Regions from separate parts of the Homo sapiens genome. Here region 1 is reported to be linked to region 2. Evidence: microRNA targets listed by miRTarBase, many of them from high-throughput screens and not tested one by one. Region 2 holds a microRNA gene; the other region holds the end of a gene's coding sequence. Distances are from middle to middle.

What was found. Region 2 holds the annotated microRNA hsa-miR-4722-5p (GGCAGGAGGGCUGUGCCAGGUUG, at 1,309-1,331, shown strand). A microRNA usually pairs through its seed, bases 2 to 8, with sites in the 3' UTR of a target mRNA and lowers its output. Matches are read on the target gene's strand: a 7mer-m8 pairs with bases 2 to 8, a 7mer-A1 pairs with bases 2 to 7 and ends in A, and an 8mer does both.
Region 1: the mRNA of ZNF500 is a reported target of hsa-miR-4722-5p. Seed matches in the 3' UTR shown: 7mer-m8 at 1,811-1,817 and 7mer-m8 at 3,906-3,912.

What each region holds. Positions count from the first base shown.
Region 1 is chr16:4,748,623-4,753,628 of GRCh38, reverse strand. It overlaps ZNF500 (zinc finger protein 500), which reads left to right. Exons shown (of 6, transcript NM_021646.4): 6 at 571-5,006. The coding sequence ends at 1,253. It overlaps DNAAF8 (dynein axonemal assembly factor 8), which reads right to left. Exons shown (of 10, transcript NM_139170.3): 10 at 4,233-4,904. Among named protein-coding and RNA genes, the nearest start is that of ZNF500, 16 kb to the left of the region's middle.
Region 2 is chr16:88,714,002-88,717,645 of GRCh38, reverse strand. It overlaps MIR4722 (microRNA 4722), which reads left to right and starts at 1,309; the gene lies at 1,309-1,368. CTU2 (cytosolic thiouridylase subunit 2) reads right to left here. Exons shown (of 15, transcript NM_001012759.3): 10 at 3,419-3,510; 11 at 3,160-3,263; 12 at 2,909-3,059; 13 at 2,720-2,786; 14 at 2,540-2,598; 15 at 2,250-2,464. The coding sequence ends at 2,395. PIEZO1 (piezo type mechanosensitive ion channel component 1 (Er blood group)) reads left to right here. Exons shown (of 51, transcript NM_001142864.4): 45 at 435-623; 46 at 748-840; 47 at 915-1,087; 48 at 1,163-1,285; 49 at 1,369-1,448; 50 at 1,527-1,713; 51 at 1,792-2,308. The coding sequence ends at 2,041.

The DNA.
Region 1 (5,006 bases), 84 Mb from region 2:
CTCACTCTGTAACTTAGCAGCCCGGTGATTCTGGGTAAGTTTCTTAACACTTGTGTGCCTCGGTTTCCCCATCTGCAGGATGGAGATGGTAACAGCACTGACCCACTGGGTTATTGTGATGGTCAAGTGCGTTCCTCTTTGTTTGTTTTATTGATTGTTTAGTTTTTGAAACAGGGTCTCATGCCGTCACCCGGGCTGGAATGTAGTGGCGCGATCACAGCTCACTGCAGCCTTGACCTCCTAGACTCAAGTGATCCTCCGACCTCAGCCTCCTGAGTAGCTAGGACTACAGGCACACGCCACCATGCCCAGCTAGTTTTGTTTATTTTCTGTAGAGACGAGATCTCACTGCGTTGCCCAAGCTGGTCTTGAACTCCTGGGCTCAAGCAATCCTCCCACTTCAGCCTTCCAAAGTGCTGGGATTATAGGCGTGAGCCACAGTGCCCAGCCCCTGCTAAATGTTTTGTAGGGGAACCTTAGGAGCCCTGTGAGGCCTTCATTTTCCTATTAGAAGGATTTCCCTTGCCCTCTTGCTGTGAGTTCCTAGAGATCGTGCTTTCTCTGTCTCAGGACCTGGGATCCAGTTGGAGGACGGCGGTGATGGCAGGGAGGATGCCCCGTTGAGAATGGAGTGGTACCGAGTGCTCTCGGCACGATGCCAGGGGCCTGGCCACCCGCTCCCAGGTCAGAGGCCAGCCCCAGTCAGGGGCTTGGTCAGGCCTGATCAGCCAAGAGGCGGCCCCCCACCAGGAAGACGGGCTTCCCATGGGGCTGACAAGCCGTACACCTGCCCCGAATGTGGCAAAGGCTTCAGCAAGACGTCCCACTTGACCAAGCACCAGCGCACACACACGGGCGAGCGGCCTTACAAGTGCCTAGTCTGTGGGAAGGGCTTTAGCGACCGCTCCAACTTCAGCACGCACCAGAGGGTGCACACAGGCGAGAAGCCCTACCCGTGCCCCGAGTGTGGGAAGCGCTTCAGCCAGAGCTCCAGCCTGGTCATCCACCGCAGGACACACAGCGGGGAGCGGCCCTATGCCTGCACCCAGTGCGGGAAGCGCTTCAACAACAGCTCGCACTTCAGCGCCCACCGCCGGACGCACACAGGTGAGAAGCCCTACACCTGCCCGGCCTGTGGCCGGGGCTTCCGCCGGGGCACCGACCTGCACAAGCACCAGCGGACCCACATGGGGGCAGGCTCCTTGCCGACGCTCCAGCCGGTGGCTCCTGGAGGCCCCGGTGCCAAAGCCTGATCACCAGGCCTGAAACTCCCTTTCCAGGACTCTCATCCCTGGGCACAGAATTCAGGAAACTGCTAGACAGCCTGGTCCGAAAGCATTGCCAGCTGCCCGTTTCCTCCCATGGCCCAGTATGAGGCCAGCAGGGGACATTTGGGATGCCCAGGCCGCAGAGGAAGCTGGGCACTGGGTGCAGAACAAGGGCAAGGACAGGCTCTGAGTGTCCAGTGGCAGCCAGAACAGGTGACACAGAGCAGGGGCTTCAGCCACAGAGACACACTCAGGAGGCCAGAAGCCGACACTCAAGGTGTTCGTGGGGCTGGCTCCTGAAGGGCCTGGGAGGGTCCATCAGCTGCCTCCAGCATCCAGTGGCTGCTGGCATACAGCCTCATCCCCACGTCCCAACCCCTCTCCTGTGTGTCTGTGACCCTGTGCGCTGTCTCTGTGTGTACCCCCCACCTGCTCCCCCCCCCTTTTTTTTTTGAGACGGGGCCTTGCTGTGTCCCCCAGGCGGGAATACAGTGCCATGATCATAGCTCACTGCAGCCTCGAATCCCTGGGCTCAAGTGTTCCTCCTGCCTCATCCTCCTGAGTAGCTGGGGTTACAGGTGTGTGCCGCCATGCCCAGTCTCTTTTTTGGTAGGGCCACCACTCACTGGGTTTAGGGTCCCCCAATACACTGTGACCTCATCTTAACTAATTATATCATCAAAACCCGTGTTTCCAAATAAGGTCACATTCTGAGGTCTGGGTGCACATGAATTTGAGGGACCCCTCGTCTGCTGCAGGGAGCCCTGCTGTACCCCAGCCTTCCCAGGACGTGGTCTCCAGCTTCTTCATCCTGCCAGAGTTTCCAAATGGAGCCCGGGGCTCTGCAGCATTCCAGTCCCCTTTGCAGATCCATAGCTGCTCTGCAGGGCGGAAGACACCTGGGGCGGGAAAGCACCCCTGAGTTCCATCTTCCTGACATGTTGCCTGGGATGTGACGGGCCTGACATCTCCCCAGGGCCGGGGCCCAGGGCTGCGTTTGCTCCTGGCCCCTTAGTGTCTGGAATGTGGCCTTCCACGGTTGCCCCACTTTGTCTTTCTAAGGTAAGAAGCCTTCACCTTCCAGCTTTTGTCTGGCCTGTGCTGCGTGGGAGCCACTGGTCTGTGCACATCCACGGTGGGTGAGTGGCCAAGACAAGCAGTGTGATAGAGTCCTTGGTGGGTTTAGTCATCTCGGAAGTCGTAGGGCAGCTATGGAAACCACTGGGTTCTGGAACGTTCCAGCCAGGCAGTGGTTGTTCCTCATAGGTAGGTGGCCTTGGCCTTCATCCCAGCCTGGGATGCTCCATTGCATTTGTCACCTAGTCACTGTATATACGTGCACATTTGACCTTTTGGCACAGCCCAGGTTCCAGGTGCGTGACCTGCCCTTTTTCTCATTCCCTTAACTGACATTATTTAGTGTCAGAGGCCGAGCACAGTGGCTCCCACCTATAATCCTAGCACTTTGGGAGGCCAACGCGGGTGGATTGCTTGAGCCCAGGAGTTCAAGAGCAGCCTGGGCAATATAGAAAGACCTCTTCCCTACCAAAAAAAAAAAAAAAAAAAAAAAGCCAGGTGCAGTGGCTCACGCTTGTAATCCCAGCACTTTGGGAGGCCGAGGCAGGTGGATCACAAGGTCAGGAGATCGAGACCATCCTGGCCAACATGGTGAAACCCCATCTCTACTAAAAACACAAAAATTAGCTAGGCATGGTGGCGTGGCACGTGCCTGTAGTCCCAGCTACTCGGGAAGCTGAGGCAAGAGAATCACTTGAACCAGGGAGGCGGAGGTTGCAGTGAGCCGAGGTCGCACCGTTGTACTCCAGCCTGGTGATAGAACGAGACTCCACACAAAAAAAAAAAAAATTAGCCAGGCATGATGGGGTGTGCCTGTAGTCCCAGCTACTTGAGAGGCTGAGGCTGGAGGATCACTTGAGCCCAGGAAGTTGAGGCTGCAGTGAGCTGTGATTGTGCCACTGCACTCATCCTGGAAGACAGAGTGAGATCCTGTCTCAGATAAAATAAACAATTTTTTTTTTAAGTCATTGCTTCTGGCCCCTGTGTGCTCTGTCCTGTGTCTGCAGAATGGGGCTGCCTGGTTGAGGGACGGCTTTTACCTTCTAGACTAGCTCTGGGATCTCTCATGGGGCATGAGGTACCCAGCTAGATGTGGCCAGGCCACACTCCAGGAGCTAGCAAAGCACCCAGCGTTGCTGACACCCATCTCCCCAGCGCAGCCTGAGCCCCCAGGCCCCTCTCTCATATCCAGGCCTGTGCTGGAGGTGGCGGCCTCTGGGGGAGTGTGGTTGGGGTCTGCCCACTTCCCTCCCCCTGCCGAGGCTGTGGCCTCCCACTGGCTGCTGCTTGGCCCCATCTCATGGTCGCTGCCTGCTGCTTGGCCCCATCTCATGGGCGTCATCCTCAGCACTCACGTGATGGGAGAGTTTTGTAGGAGCTGTGAGTCCCAGGTGCCTGCGTGTGCTGTGATGTTATCTCATGCAGTCCAGTGAGGGGGGACTCCCATTAGTCTCCTTTTTTTGTTTTGTTTTGAGACACAGTCTCACTTCATTACCCAGGCTGGAGTGCAAGGCACGATCTTGGCTCACCACAACCTCCACCTCCCAGGTTCAAGTGATTCTCCTGCCTCAGCCTCCTGAGTAGCTGGGATTACAGGTGCGCACCACTACGCCTGGCTAATTTTTGTATTTTTAGTAGAGATGGGGTTTCTCCATGTTGGTCAGGCTGGTCTTGAACTCCCGACCTTGTGATCCACCCACCTCGGCCTCCCAAAGTGCTGGGATTACAGGCGTGAGCCACCGCGCCCGGCCATGATTCTCCTTCTGTGGGTGGAGGAACTGGGCACTGGGAGCGTGAAAACCTTGCCCAGGTGGCAGAGCCAGCTTTGGACGCAGGTCTGACTTCCTACCTCACTCCCCTTGCCTTGACAGACACAGTAATTCAGAGTTGAACTTGGAACAGAGTTTATTTTCCATCACTGTAAAACATTCTCAGTGAGGTTACTGGCATTAAAAAGGTGGGAGAAATGGAAGAAAATGGGGTTGAAGAAAAAAAAAGCCTTTGCTCTTGACAGCTAGGCAGCCACAGCGGAGGCCGCCAGGCTGCGAGGGCAGCGTATGGGGGCAGAGCCCGGTTCTGGCGGCACAGGCCCCGGAGTGGAGGGGGCAGGGGAGGGTCTCTGTAGGTGGGAGAGGGCCTGGGGGCTGGGAGGCAGCCTGGCCTTGTGCCCTACAGGAGGGACCTCCTGGGACTTTATGGAAGCCTGTCTTGCCTTTGACTTGCAATGAAAATGCCCCTCATCATTGGGAGTGGGGTCGGGTGGGGGTCCCCAGTGGCCAGATCACGTGGGGTCCAGAGAGCAGACATCTGTAGCCCTGATCTTGGCGGCCAGTGACCACGGCCAAGCAGGGCCTGTCTTTTGCCTGGTACAAGGCTTGATGAGAAGAGACCCCTGCCCATCCTCAGTGGCCTGGCAGCCAGGGGTGAACCCCAGGGGAAGCTGGGACACTGTCCCAAAGGCCCGGCGCCCTACTGTGCTGCCTGAGCCCGTGGCACCGTGGGGCCCAAGGTGGTGATGATTTCTCTGCTCTTCCCACGGGGCAGACAGCAGGACACATCCTGGAGACAAGGTTGGGGAGACAAACAGGTGCCCAGGTCAGGGCTGATCACAGCAGTTACAAAAGCATCCCGTGAAGACGGGGCTGCAAGACGGTGCTGGCA
Region 2 (3,644 bases):
GGTTTACTTTGTTTCCTTCGCCAAATCCAGGTTCATGAAGATTTGCCCGTTTTCTTCTAAAAGTTCTATAGTTTTAGCTCTGAAGTTTCGCTCTTTGATCCACTTTGAGGTAAATTTTGGCACATGGTATGAGGCAGGAGTTGCGTTTCATTCTCCTGCCTGGGGCGGTGCCTGCACCGTGTTGAAAAAGGTTGTCCGTTCCCACTGAACGGTCACAGCTCCCTTGTCTAAGATCAACGACCCCTGAACATGAGGGTTCCAACTGGACTCTTAGTTCTACTCCACTGGCCTGTGTCTGCCCACCATTACTACCGCTGTGCCATACTGAGGTCAGGCTGGGGCTTTTCTGGGCTGCTGGGTGAGCTGGAGAATGCGGTTGTGTGACCCGCAGGAAGGGCAGAGCTGAGCGTATGACCTGTGTCGTTCCCCTCCAGAAATACCCGCAGCCCAAAGGGCAGAAGAAGAAGAAGATCGTCAAGTACGGCATGGGTGGCCTCATCATCCTCTTCCTCATCGCCATCATCTGGTTCCCACTGCTCTTCATGTCGCTGGTGCGCTCCGTGGTTGGGGTTGTCAACCAGCCCATCGATGTCACCGTCACCCTGAAGCTGGGCGGCTATGAGGTGAGCATGTGTGGGTCCGCCTGTCCATTCCCATCCCCTGGGGGTTCTGGCCAAGGTGGTGCACCACCCCCAGCCGCTCCTCCACGCTCATCTTCGTGGCCCCGTGTCCCCGTGCCTGCCCCAGCCGCTGTTCACCATGAGCGCCCAGCAGCCGTCCATCATCCCCTTCACGGCCCAGGCCTATGAGGAGCTGTCCCGGCAGTTTGACCCCCAGCCGGTAAGTGGCCTCTGCCCTGTGAAAGCTGGTGTGGGGAGGCGGCTGCAGTCACTGAGGGTGTCACTTGTACCCAGCTGGCCATGCAGTTCATCAGCCAGTACAGCCCTGAGGACATCGTCACGGCGCAGATTGAGGGCAGCTCCGGGGCGCTGTGGCGCATCAGTCCCCCCAGCCGTGCCCAGATGAAGCGGGAGCTCTACAACGGCACGGCCGACATCACCCTGCGCTTCACCTGGAACTTCCAGAGGTTCGTCCTGGACTTGGGGCAGTGCCTGGGTGGGTGGACCCACTACAGTGGGTCACGCTGTGTTCCCACCCCCAGGGACCTGGCGAAGGGAGGCACTGTGGAGTATGCCAACGAGAAGCACATGCTGGCCCTGGCCCCCAACAGCACTGCACGGCGGCAGCTGGCCAGCCTGCTCGAGGGCACCTCGGACCAGTCTGTGTGAGTGAAGGGCCCGGGTGGTGGGCAGGAGGGCTGTGCCAGGTTGGCTGGGCCAGGCCTGACCTGCCAGCACCTCCCTGCAGGGTCATCCCTAATCTCTTCCCCAAGTACATCCGTGCCCCCAACGGGCCCGAAGCCAACCCTGTGAAGCAGCTGCAGCCCAGTGAGTATGGGCGTGGGGGTTGGGGGAGGCTAGAGAGGGGTGACCTGCGGCCTCAACGATCTTCTCCCTCCATCCCAGATGAGGAGGCCGACTACCTCGGCGTGCGTATCCAGCTGCGGAGGGAGCAGGGTGCGGGGGCCACCGGCTTCCTCGAATGGTGGGTCATCGAGCTGCAGGAGTGCCGGACCGACTGCAACCTGCTGCCCATGGTCATTTTCAGTGACAAGGTCAGCCCACCGAGCCTCGGCTTCCTGGCTGGCTACGGGTGAGTGAGTGGCTGGGGGGGCACCCCGCAGCTCGGGGGGCTCCGGGCGGCCCCAGGACTCACCAGCTTCCCCCGCAGCATCATGGGGCTGTACGTGTCCATCGTGCTGGTCATCGGCAAGTTCGTGCGCGGATTCTTCAGCGAGATCTCGCACTCCATTATGTTCGAGGAGCTGCCGTGCGTGGACCGCATCCTCAAGCTCTGCCAGGACATCTTCCTGGTGCGGGAGACTCGGGAGCTGGAGCTGGAGGAGGAGTTGTACGCCAAGCTCATCTTCCTCTACCGCTCACCGGAGACCATGATCAAGTGGACTCGTGAGAAGGAGTAGGAGCTGCTGCTGGCGCCCGAGAGGGAAGGAGCCGGCCTGCTGGGCAGCGTGGCCACAAGGGGCGGCACTCCTCAGGCCGGGGGAGCCACTGCCCCGTCCAAGGCCGCCAGCTGTGATGCATCCTCCCGGCCTGCCTGAGCCCTGATGCTGCTGTCAGAGAAGGACACTGCGTCCCCACGGCCTGCGTGGCGCTGCCGTCCCCCACGTGTACTGTAGAGTTTTTTTTTTAATTAAAAAATGTTTTATTTATACAAATGGACAATCAGAGGCCAGTCCCCCGTCCTTGCCTTCCGGCTCCAGTGTGGTGTACCAGGTGGCCACTGCCTGCTGTCCCGGCAAGCACGTCCTCACGCTCAGCTCTGGCCCGCCTCGTCGTCACTGTCCTCAATCAGACAGTCCCGGATCTCCTGCAAGCCCCAGGCCCTAGAGAGAAAGCTGCAGTGGGCACCAGCCCCGAGGCCCCTTACCCACGCGCCACGGCAGTGTGGGCCCCAGTACCTCTGTGTGCGGAGCTGGGCCTCAGCCAGGATGTACGGCGGCAGGGGGTCCAGTGAGGGCTGCAACAGAGGCCGGTGTCGAGGGGCCAAGAAACCTGCCAGCACCCCCTCAAGCCACCCACGAGGTGACGGCCTTCCCGCGTCCCCAAGCCCGGCCCAGGACAGGTGGGCACGTACTCACCAAGTCCTTCATGTTCACGCGGCAGCTGTAGCACAGCTGCTCCTCAATGCAGGCTTGGGGGTCCTCCCTGCGGGAGCAGAGCTGGCTGTGTGCCCACCTTGGCACCTCAATGCCGTGCAGTGTGGGGTAAGGACAGGTCCCCCTCCCGCCCCATGCAGCTGGCCATGGGTGGCAGGGACAGGGACTCACCTCCTGCAGGCCCCCTGGCCACAGCGCTGGGCCCAGCCCACCCCTGGAGAACAGCAGGGCCCCGGGGGTGTCCGGGTCTCAGTCAGGGGGATGGGTGACTGCATCTGGGAGAGACGCGAGGAGGTCTGAGCCCCAAAAGCCGTGGCACTGTCTGCAAGCAGAGAGGGGGTGACGGAGCCTGGGGCTGCTGAGCCCCCACACCCACTCCCTGGCTCCCTCCCCGCATCACCCCAAGAGCATGAAACACAGACCAGCGGCGTCGACGTCCAGGGCACACATGCAGAGGAGGCAGCGGGGGCCGGAGTCGCCAGCAGCAGGGCCATCCCGGGGGCCCTTCACCAGCTTCTCACTTGTCCTGTGGCCGGATTGTGGGAGGAGCAGGTGAATCACACGGGCTGGGGCTCCACCCTAAGCCCTGGCCTGAGCACGAGTGGTGAGCTCACCACCCGCACACACCCGCGCACAGCACACACCCGCGCACCCCCCGCACACACCCACACACACCCACACCTGTACACAGTGCTGACAGTGGAGGGGAACTGGGTCTGCAGCCTGAGGATGAAGGCCTCCATCAGCCGGTGGATGCTGGCCTTTTCAGGGGCCTAGGGACAATCAGATTGGAGGCTATGGGAAAGCCCAGAGGCCAGCCCCAGGCTGGGGCAGAGTCCCCAGGACAGGTGCCGTGGGTTCCACGCTGCTGGCCCACATGGGTCTGGCTTTGCTGCGACTGCTCAAG